2 separate regions of the Homo sapiens genome follow, and region 1 is linked to region 2. A link means that fine-mapping ties the variant in region 2 to the expression of a gene that starts in the linked region. Tissue or cell type: adrenal gland. Region 2 holds a variant in brackets; the other region holds the start of a gene. All regions are shown on one strand. Distances are from middle to middle.

Region 1 (8,104 bases), 190 kb before region 2:
TTTACCAAGAGCAGGCCACCTACCTTTTTCTGTACCCTAAAGAAATCCTTATCATTCAACTAAACTGAATCATTCATTATTTAAAAAACAAAAAACAAAAACTGAAAACTAACTCTACTTTCGAATTTTATAATTGAGGCCAAAAATATATAATCACTTCAGAACAAGATATCATTAGGTTACTACTAATGGTATAAAAAGTAGCCTTGATAGATAGCAAAAGATAAAAACATCACAAGTTCTAGAAATTCTATTTCATTTCAGTGTTTTTGAAATAATGTAATGTGGCAAAATTATGGTTAATTCTAAACAAAATCTATCCATTTCTCAAGAAAAACCTGACAGGCTCACAGAATAAGGTTAACCATGTCAGCTGACGGTCGTTTCTTCAACAGCATGGACATCCTGCTCAGACTTGGTTCTTTGAAGACCGAAGGGTGAACCCACTCCTGCCCACACACAAAGTCCTGGAGACAAGGGCCAAGCTGCTTTCACCTTAGCTAAAGACACAGTTGGTGTGTATGAAAATGTACACGCTGCAAAGGCCACTGGGACCTGGAAATTCCTTCTACATTGGGTAGACACCAACCACCGATTTGCAGATAAACTCCCAGCATCTGCTCTGTATTAGGGCTCACTGGCATACTCTTCCTGATACCCCAGGTCAATCTCATCCATCCCCGTGCCCAGCACTTCCCTCGGCCCTTAAGCAGTCTGTTCACATCAGTCTCCATTTGTTCTGCTTCAGAAGACACAAGTAGTTACTTGCCACTTGTCACTATATGCATCCCCTGCATTCATAATCAGAAGAGCACAAAGGAGGATGCTCTGTATTCCTGGACTGAGAAAGCCAAAGCTGAGTCTGGAGCTACCTGAGGTGCAAGACCTTCGTCCCACCTGAAGTCAGAGACCTCAGTGGTGCCCACTGAGCACAGGTAAGGAACATGGGGCAAAGTCATCAGCAGGTGAACAGAAGATCAGAGACCAAGAAAACCACCTCTGTGTCCTGTCTTTGTAGGCAGCTGCTGCACTATAGCTAGAACTTGTATCTCTGACCTTTTGGGATGGAAAACAGCCATAACTCTTTCCCTTTACTGCTTAACGAAATCTAGTGATTTACATTTGCAGTTTTGCTGCAAGAAATACTAGAATGTTCTTGCTGTTCCAAGCCAGCACCATCAGGGAGAGGCTGCTTTGCACTGGTCAAGAAAGTATGAGTCCGGGGGTTTCGTCTTAACTCTGACACTTACTAGGTAAACAACCTATTGCAGTTACTTATCAGGTCCTTCATGTGTGAAATCAGAGATGTGACCAAATCAATGCAAGAAAACCTGGATTTTAAAAATCTAAAAGCTCATTCCTGTATGTGTTCTCAGGACTATTACTAACATAGGTGCACACAACTCTCGCACAGAAAACAGTGAGCAGCCTCCCCAAACATACTTGGAATAAGAACCCTTTCTTTCCTCCTTCGACAGAGCAGATATTTTCACCTCTCAGAACTAGCACTCCACGGGCAGTTTGGGAACATCAGACCAGCTTGCTTTTCAGGTGCTTCTGGCTGCCATTTTTTAAAAATTTACAATATAGCCCTCATAGGACTTTTCACCTCTTAAGGAAAAAAGAAAGTTTTGTGGCTGTTCTTTAGCCTAAGCAGGGCTTTGAGGACCTATGATGTATTTCATATATTTAATAAGCTTTTATTTACATGTAACTTTTTTTCCACAATAGAATATTAAGGATATTCTTTTTTTTCGTTTTGTAATGCCATTAGAACGGAAGTTCCATAAGGGCAGGTATTTTTGTATTTTTGTCTATTTTTTTTTCCACTGGCACATCCCCAGCACCCAGGCTGTGCCTACCACACAGCAGGCACTCGAATGCCAGTGATGAAGAAGTCACGATACCACACCATAACTGAACAAGATTTATACCCAAGACTAATATCAAGAATGTTACTTACTCAAAAACTTCTAACGGTACAGTAATATCATGAAGCTGCTGTCTGCACTTGTCAATATCCTGTAAGCCAGTAACAATAAAATTCCTGGGGGAAAGGCAAACACACAGGCATCTGGTTAATTTCGCTTGACAGCATAAGCACCACCCACAGAGCTACCCAGCCAACCGGGGCTCCACGCAAGTTCGTTCTCCTCACAGCTATGCGGGTTACACACGGTTCTGACCTCTTTGGTTAGCTACAGGATTCCTAGGACACCGTTAGAGTTACAAAATACCCTTAAATATTTGTTACTTTCCTTCTCAACTAGAAATTGCCAGTAAGGGGGATGGAGAGGGAACCTGATGAAAAATATGAACCTTCTCTCAAAAACAATTACCTGACTGTGCATATGACTGTGTGTGCGGTTTCAGCGAACACATGAGGCAGCGGACTATACTCAAAGTCTGAGGGAAAGAAAGCCATACTGTCTGGTTTAGCTTCCTCTCCTCTCTGGAGCCTTCCTACAGCATCAGGCTGGTCTGGCTATTCCCACAGCACTAGGTATGGAACCTCGAGTGCAACATTTTCTATGTCCGTGCCACATATAAAGCCCTTCTCGAAAGTGCTGTACTTGCATTTGCCTTTTCTCCAACCCAGGGCCTAGCAACATGGGCAGCACAAGGCTGTTGCCAAGAAATAATAATAATAAACGTTCTGCAACCTTTCTCAGCACCACCTCCCCGCTATTTCCTCCACTGTCAGGCCTATGCGGCAGGTGGCTTCGGAGCCTCACCTTCTGAGGCCTAGTTTAGGGCGTGCACTCACTGTGGAGCCTGCCTCCCCTCTGGAGACAGGGACTGAATTCCCAGAAGGGCTCCAGGAGGAAAAGGCTGGGAGGGGGTTACACATGAGAGGGGAGACGCTAGAAGAGAAAGCATGATTCCCTTGATAGGGAAACGTAAAGTATATCATCTGGCCATGACGACGTCTCCAAAGGGGCCTCAAAGAGGTTGGCTCTTGGCAACAGGCTGGAGCGCGGGCCCCGCCCTCTGAACACAGCCAGGAAAGGCGCCCCGGGCTCCGGGACCAGACCAGAGGGCTGGCGGGGCACGAGTAGCGGTCAGGCTCGGCTCGGGCTCCCTAGATCCCCGCTCCCCTAGCACACGCTTCCCGGCCAGGCCCTGGGGAGACCCCGGCAGCCTCGGGCCGCCACTCACAGCTTTTGGTTGAGCCCGGCCTGGCTGCTGGGCTGGAAGTCACTGACGATGATGCCGAGCTGCCGAATGTTCTCCACGAACTTCTCCAGGTGCTCCTCTAGGTGGTCAAACTTCTCCGCCATCGCCTCGGCCCGTCCCCGACCCACACAGCCTCAACCAGCAGCGCCGCAGGCGTGGCCCTACGCTCCCGCTTCCTGCTTCCGTCCGGACAGATACGACTTCCGTTTCCTCTGGGGGAGCGCGGGCGAGCTCTTGGGGGCGGAGCCTCGTTATCGGGACGGGCGTGTTGGGGCGGGGCCTAAGTGCGGGGCAGGGCGGGCTTTCGGGGATGCGGTCTGGATTCTGGAGGAGGCCTCGGCGCGCAGCTGGGCGAGTACTAACTGTTTGCACTCTCATCAGACCTGCCTCGGTCATGGGAGAAGTTGAAGACTTTCTGCAATGCAGCATCTTCAAGCAATACACACATGGATGAAAATCCTAAAGTTTGCATGAAGGACCAATAACGGTAGTTTCCCTGCCCCTCTACCAGAACCCCTGGGATCAGCGCCTGCCTGCCTCCTTTCTTCTATGTAATCGGCGGCCACCTCCCCTAGCTCTTGCTGCTAACCATGCTTCCCGGACACCTGCTGCCTTCGTAGGTCAGGGTCTCACCTCCTCGGGCCAATTCTGACCAAACAGCACCCTGTGGGGTTGCCCTGTCTTAGTAAACTGCTGTTTATCTCATTGAAATTCAGTTTAGGTCATTTCACTCTTATGTTTAAGAAACTTTTCTGCCCGATCTCCTATGATAGCGGATATCTCCTCTAGCCTGTTTGAATTTCTCAAGTGATTTATTTTACTGAATATATTTGTGGCCTGTACTTTTCAGTGCCTAGAAACAGGCAAAGTGAGGGAGCTCCTTTGCTAGATGATCTTCAGAGCCTCTCCCAGCTGTGACCAGAAATGGAAAGCCAGAGAAGGTAAGTGACTTGCCAAACTTATGGAATCAGGGCACTCCAGTTGGTGGGCTGGGCTGATAAACAGAAATGTTACATAAAATACTTCTCTCCTGATTTAACAACAATTAACTTTAGGGAATTATAAAACAAGATGGAGGCTGGGCGTGGTGGCTCAGGCCTGTAATCCCAGAACTTTGGAAGGCCAAGGCAGGTGGATTACCTGAGGTGAGGAGTTCGAGACCGACCTGACCAATATGGAGAAACCCTGTCTCTACTAAAAATACAAAAATTAGTCAGACATGGTGGTGTGCGCCTGTAGTCCCAGCTACTTGGGAGGCTGAGACAGGAGAATTGCTTGAACCCAGGAGGCAGAGGTTGCAGTAAGCCGAGATCATGCCACTGCACTCCAGCCTGGGCAACAGAGCAAGACTCAAAAAAAAAAAAAAAAGGTGGAAATAAAATATTAGACAAATAAAAAATTTTAAGTTATTAGGTAGAGGTAGCGACATGGAGTGAACGGCCTTTCTCAATTTCATAAGTAAGAAAGATAGATAATTGATGGAACTTAGGCTTTGGTAAGTATTTATTTTAAAAATTTAAGGGTATCTCTTTGCTAGTATATATAATTCCCAAACTAGTAGACAGGGGGAAGGGAATAAAGAAAACACAATCAACTCAATAGAAGGCAAGAAAAGAAGAGAATAAAGAAGCAAAGAACAAGCATGGAAAATAAAACTCACAACGTAAAGTGCAAAAATTAAAGGCACACGACTCAACAGCAAAAAAGCAAAAGAAGAAATTTATAAATGGGCAAAGGACCTGAACAGATACTTCTCAAAAGAAGACATAAAAATGACCAGCAAAAATGCTCAGCATCACATATCATCAGGGAAATACAAATTAAAAGCATAATGAGATGTCACCTTACACTGTTAGAAGGGCTATAATCAAAAAGACCAAAGACAATGGGTGTGGGTGAAAATGTGGAGGAAAGGGAACCCTTGTACACTGTTGATGGGAATGTAAATTAGTGCAGCCTTTATGGAAAATAGAATGGAAGTTTCCCAAAACTCTAAAAACAGAATTACCATATGATCCAGCAGTCCTACTTCTGAGTATATACTGTGAACCCTGAATATCTGAGACAGTTCTCAGTTAATTTAGAAAGTTTATTTTGCCAAGGTTGAAGACACACACTCATGACACGGCCTCAGGAGGTCCTGATGACATGAGCCCAAGGTGGTCAGGGCACAGCTTGGTTTTATACATTTTAGGGAAACATGAGACATAAATCAATATGTAAGTGTAAGGTATACACTGGTTCTGTCCAGAAAGGCGGGAAAACTCAAAGCAGGGAGGGGGCTTCCAGGTCACTGGTAGGTGAAAGACAAATAGTTACATTATTTTGAGTTTCTGATTTGCCTTTCCAAAGGAGGCAATCAGATATGCACCTATCTCAGTGAGCAAAGGGATCACTTTGAATAGAATGGGAGGCAGGTTGTCCCTGAGCATTTTCCAGCATGACTTTTCCCTTTAGCTTAGTGATTTGGGGGCCCCAAAATTTATTTTCCTTTCACAATACTCAAAGGAATTGAAATCACTATGTCAAAGAGATATCTGTGTTTCCAGAAAGAGGTCCCAGTCCAGACCCCGAGAGAGTTCTTGGATCTTGTGAAAGAAGGAATTCAGGGTGAGTCCATATAGTAAAGTAAAAGCAAGTGTATTAGTAAAATAAAGGAATAAAGAATGGCTACTCCATAGGCAGAGCGGCCCGAGGGCTACTGGTTACTTGCTGTTATGGTTATTTCTTGATTGTATGCTAAGCAAGTGGTGGCTTATTTATGCCTCCCCGTTTTAGACCATTTAGGGTAACTTCCTAACAGGTCATGGCATTTGGAAACTGTCAGGGCAGTGGTGGGAGTATAGCAGTGAGAACTCTCGTTGCCATCTTGGTTTTGGTGGGGTTTAGCTGGCTTCTTTACAGCAAACTGTTTTATCAGTGAGGTGTTTATGACCTGTATTTGGTGCCGACCTCCTATCTCATCTTGTGACTTAGAATGCCTAACCATCTGGGAATGCAGCCCAGTAGGTTTGTTTCAGCCTTATTTTACCCAGCTCCTATTCAAGATGGAGTTGCTCTGCTTCAAATGCCTCTAACATCTGTACCCCATAAAAATAGACAATTATTATTTGTTAATTAAAAATAAAATTAAAAAGTGTATCATGAACTGTGTTCCCTGTCATTAAATGTGTGCCTTCCCCACTAAAAACATACGTTAGTGAACACAGTAAATGTTAACAGATTTAACATTTAATTAATTTAATTAATTAATTAATTATTTAATTTAACATTTAACTGTTAGTCTATCCTAACAGTTAAATGTTAACAGATTTAACTGTTAGGGTAGACTCTCAGATTAGAATCCAATTGGAAGTGTTTTGTTTTGTTGTTTTAATCTAGCTATGTTGCTTTTCAAAGGTACACCTAAAACAAACTTATAGACAGGTTGAAAATAAAGAGGGAGGATAGAATAATATATGGCAGGCAACCAAAAGAAAGTTGTTAATGCATATAAAAGTTAGTAAAGAAACATTAAAAAGATGCTTTTAATGGTAAAGAGAAGACTCATTAAAGATAGAATACTATTCACCTATAAGCAACTGACAACATAGTCCCATATTATCTAGCACAAAAATTGACAAAATATGAGGAAAAATTCAAAATCCATAATTATTACAGAGGATTTGGAGTACCTCTATCAGAAAACAATAAATCAAGTAGGCCAAAAAGCATATGAAGAATATGGAAGACTTAAGTAATATATTAAGAATTGTGATCTCTGAAAAACAGTGACCCCTGAAGAATAGATTGTTTCCAAGCACATTTCAAATACTTACAAAAACTTGACCATTCCCTAGACCACAAAGAAAGTTTCAGCAAACTCAGATCCTATCACATAGACCAGATTTTCTGACCTCGTAATTCCAGTAGAAATCTATGAATTTATTCATTTTCTACACATACATACACGTTCGAAAATCAAAACACACTCTAAATAATTCATGAGTTTACATACATCTGAGAATGGGCAAGACCCAATTATGTCTGTTGTCTTCGTGTGATTATTAATAGCACTCTTCCACTCACTGTCAAACATGTCCCAGTTTGGTTGATACGTTATGTGGACATCCTATTTAAAAGGAAAATTATAAAACATTTGGAATTAAATGACAAGAATTCCCTGTCAAACTTCTGCTTTACTCCTGAGGTAATAATTTGAGGGAAAACAGCCTGGAAAAAATAAACTGGAGTTTCAACTCAAAGAGTAGGATAAAAAGAATCAAAAGGGAAATCACAGGCACCAAAAAATACATAAAAAGGGGTGACAAAAGTAAAGACAGACACTGATGAAAATGAGAACTATTGCATTAGTTTTCTGTCTAGCTGCATTCGAAGCTGGAAAGATAAAAATGAAGAAAAGTTGATTGTTGAAAAGATGAGTCAAATATATATACTTCTGGCAAGTCTCATCAGAGAAGAAGAAAAGAAAGGTGCTAAAAGAGAAAAATATACAGTATTATAAATGAGTGAGGGTGAGGGTAAAACTTATATGTTCATAATTTTGAAAGCTTAGAAGATATAAACAATTTTCTAGGAAACTACCAGAAATTAACTTAAGAAAAATAAACAATTAGAATAGTTCCTAGTCTTTCAATAAACTGGCCAGTAGGCAAAAATCTCTTTCAAAGATAGGAGAGACATAAGCTCGGACAGTTTTTTATACTAATTGTTTAAAAATCAAACATTAAAGAACAAATAATTTCAAACTTACCCAGATACATTCAGAGACTAGAAAAAGAAGAAATACATCCCAGCTCATTTTGAAAGAGCAGTATAACTTTTATATGAAAATCATCAAGGACAATACAAGAAAATATAGGTCAATCTTCCTTATGAAAGTAGATACAAAAGTCTTAAGTAAGATATTATCAGAATTAGATCAGTT
Region 2 (8,108 bases):
CCTGTTTGAATGGCTGTTTTTTTTTTAAATGAAAGATTACAAGTGTTGATGAGAATGTGGAGAAATTTGAACCTTTTTGTACTGTTGATGGGAATGAAAAATGGTACAGCCACTATGGGAAACAGCATGGAGGTTTCTCAAAAAGTTAAAAACAGAAAAACAGAAATACCATATGAAATCCCTCAATTGAGTATGTATCCAGAAGAATTGAAATCAAGATCTCAGAGAGATATTTACATTTTCACGTTCACTGCAGCATTACTCACAATAGCCATGATGTAGAAGCAACCTAAATGTTTATCAAAAAGAAATTATATATATACACATACACACAATGGAATATTAGTCAGCCTTTTGAAAAACAAATCTTGTCATATGAGACAACATGAAAGAAACTTGATGTCTTTAAGCTAAGTGAAATAAGCCAGTCACAGAAGGACAAAAATTACATGATTCTATTTATTTGGGGTATCTAAAATAGTCAAACACATAGACGATTATAGTAGAATGGTGCTATGGTTTGAATATCCCCTCCAAAACTCATGCTGAAACTTAATATTGAGAGGTGGGGCCTTTAAAGGTAATTGGATCATGAGGGCTTGGCCCTCATGAAGGATTAACCCATTCATGAATGGATTAATGGGTTAATGAACTACCATGTGAGGGAAACTGGTAGCTTTAAAACAAGAGGAAGAAAGATCTGAGATAGCACACTCAGTCCCTCACCATGGGATTCCCTGTGCTGCCTCAGGACTCTGCAGAGCCCCCACCAGCAAGAAGCTCTTACCAGATATGATCCCTCGACCTTGGACTTCTCAGCCTCCATAACTCTGAGAAGTAAATTTTTTTCTTTATGAATTACCCAGTTTCAGGTATTCTGTTATAAGCAACAGAAAATGTTCTAAGATATATGGCAACCCCCAGGGGCTGGGGGAAGAGGGAAATGGGAAGTTGTTATTTGATGGTTATGAAGTTTGAGTTATACACGATGCCTAAATTCTAGAGATCTACAGTGTGGAATTGTGTCTATAGTTAACAACATTGTATTGTACATTTCAGAATCTGTTAAGAGGATAGATCTCATTTTAAGTGTTCTTATCGCAGTTTTTAAAACTATATAAAAGAATATCATATTATATGAGTCTTTTGAGACCTGCTTTCTCATGCAACATTATGTTACTATGATGCATCCATGTGTTGAATCTGGCTGTAGTTCATTCCTTTTCAATTCTGTATAATAGTTTATTATATGAATAGATTCAGATCTGTATGGGCCTTTGGGATGTTTCCAGGTTTTTGCTATTAAAATCAGAGCTGCTACAAGCATTCTTCTTCATAACTTACATGCATTTGCAAGCATTTGTCTTAGGTACATATACCTACAAATGGAATTGCCAGATTGCAGGGTATGCTAATATTCAAATTTACAAGATTAATTTGCAAAATGGTTGTACTAATTGAAGTTCCCACCAGTAAAGTATAAAATATACTCTTGATCCATTCTTCTCCAATACTTGGTAGTATCAGATTTCTTGGTTTTGCCAATCAAAATTTGGTATGCAATGCTATGTTAGTGTGTGACTAGAATGTCCCTGATTACTAGTGATATGTATCATCTCTTCATAGCTTATTGGCTCCCTGTATTTTTTCTTCTTTGAAATGCTTGTTCATGATTTTACCCAATTTTTTAAAATTAAATTGTCTTTTTTTAATTAATTTTTAGAAGTTTGTTTCATATAGTTTGTGTTGGTACTTTCTGCAGGAAATGTGTTTTCTTTAACTTGCAAAATTCATCAATGTTTCAGAGTTTAGGCTTTTTGTGCCTCTTTTAAGAAATATTTTCCTATCCCAGGGTCAGGAAAATAACCACCTATATTTTCCTCTAAAAATTTTGTTTTGCTTTTGATATTTCAAATTTTTATTGTATATGCTGTGAGGTAGAGATCCAGTTTACTTTTTTCTACATAAGCAATGGAAAACTAGCTTTTCCCACACCATCGACTACACAGTCTCCCCTTCAGCCAATGATCTTTCATCCCACTGATGTCATATATCAAGTAGTCCTACTCTGTGGTTCTGTTTCTGGTGTTCTATTCTGAGTCATTGCTCAGTTTCTTATCCTTGTACCAGCACCACACTGTCTTAACTACTGCAGCTTAATAAATAGGTCTTAACCTTGATAGGCAAATCCTCCTTCTCCGTATTTCATTTTTAGAAGATTGAAGGCTATTCTTATCCCTTTGATCTTCTCTACACATGTTAAAATCCAGGTTTATGAGAACCCTGTTGTGATTTTTATTGGCACTGCATTAAATCTAGAGATCTATTGGAAGAGAATTATCTTTACCATACATAAAGTTTCCCTACTCATAAGCACAGGATATATATCCATTTATTTGGTACTTCTTTAAAATATTTGTGTATACAGGTTTTCTGTGTGGGTCTTACAAATGATTTCTTAGATTTATTTCAAGACAATCTGCAGCATTTTATTCTATAATTTTTTCTATAACTTTTTTACTATTGACTTCTGTGTATTGATTTTATATCCAGCCACCTTCCTGAACATATTTTTTTTTTTTTTTTTGAGACGGAGTCTTGCTCTATCGCCCAGGTTGGAGTGCAGTGGAGCAATCTCGGCTCACTGCAAGCTCCACCTCCTGGGTTCACGCCATTCTCCTGCCTCGGCCTCCTGAGTAGCTAGGACTATAGGCGCCTGCCACCATGCCCGGCTTTTTTTGTATTTTTAGTAGAGATGGGATTTCACAGTATTAGCCAGGATAGTCTCGATTTCCTGACCTTGTTATCCGCCTGCCTCAGCCTCCCAAAGTGCTGGGATTACAGGTTTGAGCCACCGCGCCCAGCCTAAACATATTTTATTTATAATAATTTATAGAATTTTGGGTAATCTCTATAGATAATCATATCACCTGCAAATAATGACAAATTTCTCTCTTTTTCTATCATATGCTATTAATTCCTGTTCCTATATAATGTCAAAGAGAAGCATAGTAGTATAGGACATCCTTGTCTTGCTATTTTTAAACTAGGTGCTTCCAATATTTTATCATTATAATGATTCTTTTTGTATATCTTTAGATAATTCTTTATCAGGTCAGGAACATTTACTGTTAGTTACTCCTAGTTTTAAAAGAAGGTTTTTATTTCTCATTTCGAATGGGTAATTTTATCAAACGATTTTTCTATATCTACTGAGATGATTTCCTCTTTCAAAACAGTAATGATTTTTACATTTTCCAATATTAAATCATCTTTGAGTTCCTAGGCAATTTCTACATATTAATTTTCATTTTTCTACACTGTAGGGTGCAGCTTGCTATTTTGTTAGGATCCTTCCATCCATCTTCATAAGTGAGATGGGCTTACAATTTGGTTTTCTTGAACTGTCCTTGTTTAGTTTTGGTTTTAAGGTCAGACCTGGCTCATCAAATGAGGGAGGAAAATTCTCTCGAATAAACTAACTTTTCTAAATCAGCTTATTGGCCTCCTCAAACAAACCTGTTCATCCCAGTGAGCAAGATGGGAAAGAATTCAAAATGGGACAAGAGGGGCATTTTATAGTTATTAATATATACACAAGCAAGTGTTTTTTGGAGACTGAGTATGTCAGTGTTCCTCAGCTTGGACACAAATTAAAATCACTTGGGGATCTTTTATAAAAATGCTTATGAGGGACCCACCAGCTCAATTAAATTTGAATCTCAGGGGGATTGGGCCAAGCCATTGTAATTATGAAGAGCCCCCTTGAGTAAGTCTAATCTGCAGCTAGGGTTAGAAATGTTTTTCCATGTAGCAATCTCACATGCTGTCTGTCACCTTACAGTGAACCAGTCCATCAGTTTATCAACAAACAAGCATTTGCCAACTGCTGGCATATTTCCAGAAACACAACAGGCTTAATTGAATTGGTATAATACGGTTCTTTTCTCCACGTACAGGCCCACTGGGAAGAAAGAGTGACCACCTTGGTTTCAGTTAGAGAACAATCGATTAAAACAATCTTTGTGTTAACAATGATGCTGATCACAACATAAACACAGACAGTTGATAATATGCTATTGAATAAATTATGGCTCATTTATTCAATGAAACCTAGTCAACTACAAAAAGATGTTAGTAATCTAGCGTTCATGCAGATGACAAAACTGTAGGTGCTAAC[G/A]TCACATTTTGTAACATATCTTGATATAGAAAAAAGTTAAATGAATAAAGAACAAATAACAGTATTAATTGCCATGTGTTAAAAAAGAAGAATTGTTCAAAGGGTACAAAGTTTTAGGCAGGAGGAATAAGTTTTAGTGATCTATTAATAATAATATATTTTATATTTCAAAATCGCTAAATGTTCTCACCACAAAAAAAAGGTAAGTATGTGAGGTGATGGATATGTTAATTAGCTTTATTTACTCCACAATCTATACATATATTTTAACATCACACTGAATCCCATAAATATATACAATTATTATTTGTCAATTTAAAATAAAATAAGAAAATACGAATTATTTCATTTTGCTTTCATTTTTTCCCAGCCTCTTTGCAATGCATTGGAATTTCTTATGCAAAAAAAATGCAAAATGTAACAAGAGAGAGTTACGTAGTGGTTTATTTTATTTAAGTCATTTTGATTATAAGAAAAATTTTGCTCCTTTTGGCTCTAGCGCAGAGGAGCAGAGGTTTTGAATGGAACTTTCACATTAAGAACTGAACAAAGTCCAGTTAGCCTAGAATTAGAACCCAGAAATTCAGGTGTAGCGCCTTCTCTGGGCTCCTCTCTTCAACAGCCTGCTCCTTCCTCAGTTTCCCTAGAAGTCTAGTTAGCTTGAGAGTGTAACTTGCCATGGAGTGGTACAGACTGTAGCCATGGCAACATGATCTTTTGAATACAGTGCCCATCCCTTTGGGCAAGTTGCTCCATCTTCCCAAGCCTTAGTTTGTCATGTGCAAATAAAGATATAATAGAACAACATCCAATATATGTTTGAGAATGATATTTCTAGCAAAGTCCCTGTTGCATCAAAAACTTTCCCCAAATGTTCACTATAAAATGTTTACGTCCTTTCTTGTTGAAGATGTGCAACCAAGCTTCAGCATGTCCATGTTATGAGGGCACAGGGAGCCCAGGATCAGGGCCCACCTGGGCATGAATGGTGCCTGTGGACTTGCAGAGTCATTCTGGGTAGAGGGCAGCATGCAATAGGATATTACCTAGCCGTAAAAAGAAAACAAATTCCAACACATGCGACAACATGAATGAACCTTGAGGACATTATGCTAAATGAAATAAGCCAATCCCACAAACAAAAAGCAAATATGGTGACTCCACTTATACAAGAGACCTAGAATAGGCAAATTCATGGAGACAGGAAGTAGAATAGCAGTGACCAGGGCTGGGCAGAGAGGGGAATGGGGAGTTATTGTTTAATAGCCTAGAGTTTCCGTTTAGGATGAGGAAAATATTTTGAAACGGTAATGATAGTGGCACAACATCATGAATGTACTTAACCCCACAGAATTGTACACTTAAAATGATTAAACAGCTCTGGGCATGGCGGCTCACGCCTGTAATCCAAGTACTTTGGGAGGCTGAGACAGGCAGGTAAGGAGGTCAGGAGGACCTGAGGTCAGGAGTTCAAGACCAGACTGGCCAACATGGCGAAACCCCATCTCTACTAAAAATACAAAAATTAGCCAGGCATGGTGGCACACGCCTGTAATCTCAGCTACTCAGGAGGCTGAGGCAGGAGAATCACGTGAACCTGGGAGGTGGAGGTTGCAGTGAGTCGAGATTGCGCCACTGCATTCCAGCCTATGGGACAGAGTGAGACTCGGTCTCAAAAAAAAAAAAAAAAAAAGATTAAACTGACAAATGTTTTATAATATATATATGTGTGTGTGTGTGTGTGTGTGTGTGTGTGTGTGTGTGTGTGTGTGTATATATATATATAACTACAATAATAAAACTAAAACAAACAAAAAATCCCACAAATTTATCATCTCATGTTGTCTGTGGAGCCTGGGACTCAGGGGCTCACCAGGCTGAAATGAAGGTTTCAGTAAACTGTTCTTGTCTGGAGGCTTCCCTGGGGAAAGATCCACCCCCCATCTTTTTGGGGTTATAGGGAATTTAGCAGGACTGAGGTCTCTGTTGTCTTTCTAGCTACCAGCCAGGGACCACTCTCAGCTTCTAAAGGCTACCCACAGGCCCCTGCCATATGGCATCTGGCAAGGGTCCCTCAGATGTGCCATCTCTTGCTCCAGGAAGGGATTGTCCCTTTTAAGGATTCACCTGATCAGGTCAGGCTTACCAGGGTAATCTTGCTTTTGATAACTCAAAGTCAACTGATTGGCAGCCTTCTCATGGGCATGATGTCCCATCACATTCTGAGGGGCTGCCTGCCACCCAGGGAAGGGGATTACCCAGGGCATACCCACCAGGGAACAGGAATCCTGAAGGCCATCTTAGAACTCTGCCCATCACACCTTCCCATGCCCATAAGATGTTTCACTGCATCTCATTTACCCGAAAGCACCCAGGTGATAACAGGTGCACACTGAGGTTCTCCACTTAGTTTGTGGAGCCTCGGGGGAAAAAAGGTTTTAGTCTGGGGTGTTGAAGGAATAAAGATGAGTCTTGACTTTTCCGAAGGGCCCTGCCTCTGTGTAACACCTGGGAAGCATCACTTGTAAGACACGCGCATTTGGAAGGGCCAGCACGAGCTGCTCCATCTCACTGGACAATGAGGTCCCTGGTGGTTTCCAATTAGGCTGAGCTCATTGGCTTAATAGTCCGGCCCCAGCTGTTGCCTGGGCTTGAAAGAAAGAAAACTGGGTCAAGCAAATGATTTCAGGCATTCAGAGCAGTTATTTCCACTAACCAGCCTGTCTGCCCTCTGGATACTGTCAGTGCTTTGAGAATGGGCTGGGTTATAGTTTCTCCACCATGGCTGCCCATCAAGACCACCCAGGGACCCACCCACCTAGACCTGTCATCTTAGGTTCTCTAAGGTGGGCCCAGGGTTTTCTCAAAGCCACTCGGGTGATTCTAATGGCCAGCCAGGGTGGAGAACCACTAGATTGGATAATCATTTGGGAAACCACTTCTCACAAGATGAAAATTAAAATACCAGTTGACTTTGTTGAAGGGGATTCAGTTTATTAGAGCAAGAAGTAGAGCCCTGCAGGGCGTGGAAATGCATTTTGGAAAGAAATGCAAATGGGGAGGAAATGGCTTGTTTCAGGACATCCAGATGCATTCTATGAGTGCGCATCGAGTACTCCCAAGTGCAGGGTGCTAAGACACAGACAGTTGTGCACAAGCTCAACAGGGGCCCTGCCTCCTGGAGCTGATAGTCCCCTGGAAATCAGACGGGAAGAAGGGGAAAGACGGGAAGGGGAAAGACGGGAGAGGGAGGGGATAATACAGTAGCAACACAATGTGTCCTTCAAGCTGCTAAGATCCTGAGCTTGTTTTTAAACTGGAGCACAGCAGAATTCAACTCTGCCTTTAGGTGAGAAAAATCACATCACATTTGTGTTAAGAGAAAACACATCCTGAAAATTTATGAATGAAATGATAGTGTCTCGTGTGTGTGTGTGTGTGTGCATCAGGGGACCAGTCTGCATAGATATAACTAGATTAGACAAAGGTTGTCACTTGTTGGAGCTGGGTGACAGCTGCATGAGGAAGGGTCATTGTGCCATTCTCCCCACTTTTGTATGATTGATATTTTCCATAAAAGAAACTTAACTAAATTAAATTAATAAATCAAGAGACAAAAGAATGACATATTCTGATGGTTAATACAGTGTCAACTTGATTGGACTGAAGGATGCAAAGTATTGATCCTGGGCGTGTCTGTGAGGGTGTTGCCAAAGGAGATTAACATTTGACTCAGTGGGCTGGGAAAGGTCGACCTACCCTTAATCTGGGTGGACACCATCTAATCAGCTGCCAGTATGGCTAGAACATAAAGCAGGCAGTAAAATATGAAAAGACTACACGGGCCTAGCCTCCCAGCCTACATCTTTCTCTCATGCCAGATGCTTCCTGCCCTCGAACATTGGACTCCAAGTTCTTCAGTTTTGGG

The links. PIP is the estimated chance that this variant, and not a neighbour inherited with it, causes the effect.
Region 1: it holds the start of MED10, and the variant in region 2 is fine-mapped to the expression of MED10 in adrenal gland (GTEx, PIP above 0.99).

The regions. Positions count from the first base shown.
Region 1 is chr5:6,375,203-6,383,306 of GRCh38, forward strand. It overlaps MED10 (mediator complex subunit 10), which reads right to left and starts at 3,345. Exons shown (of 4, transcript NM_032286.3): 1 at 3,160-3,345; 2 at 1,964-2,047. The coding sequence starts at 3,281. RefSeq lists enhancers at 3,080-3,289, 3,580-3,799.
Region 2 is chr5:6,561,797-6,569,904 of GRCh38, forward strand. No RefSeq gene overlaps it. Among named protein-coding and RNA genes, the nearest start is that of LINC01018, 16 kb to the right of the region's middle. The variant G/A (reference allele first, on the strand shown) is at 4,181.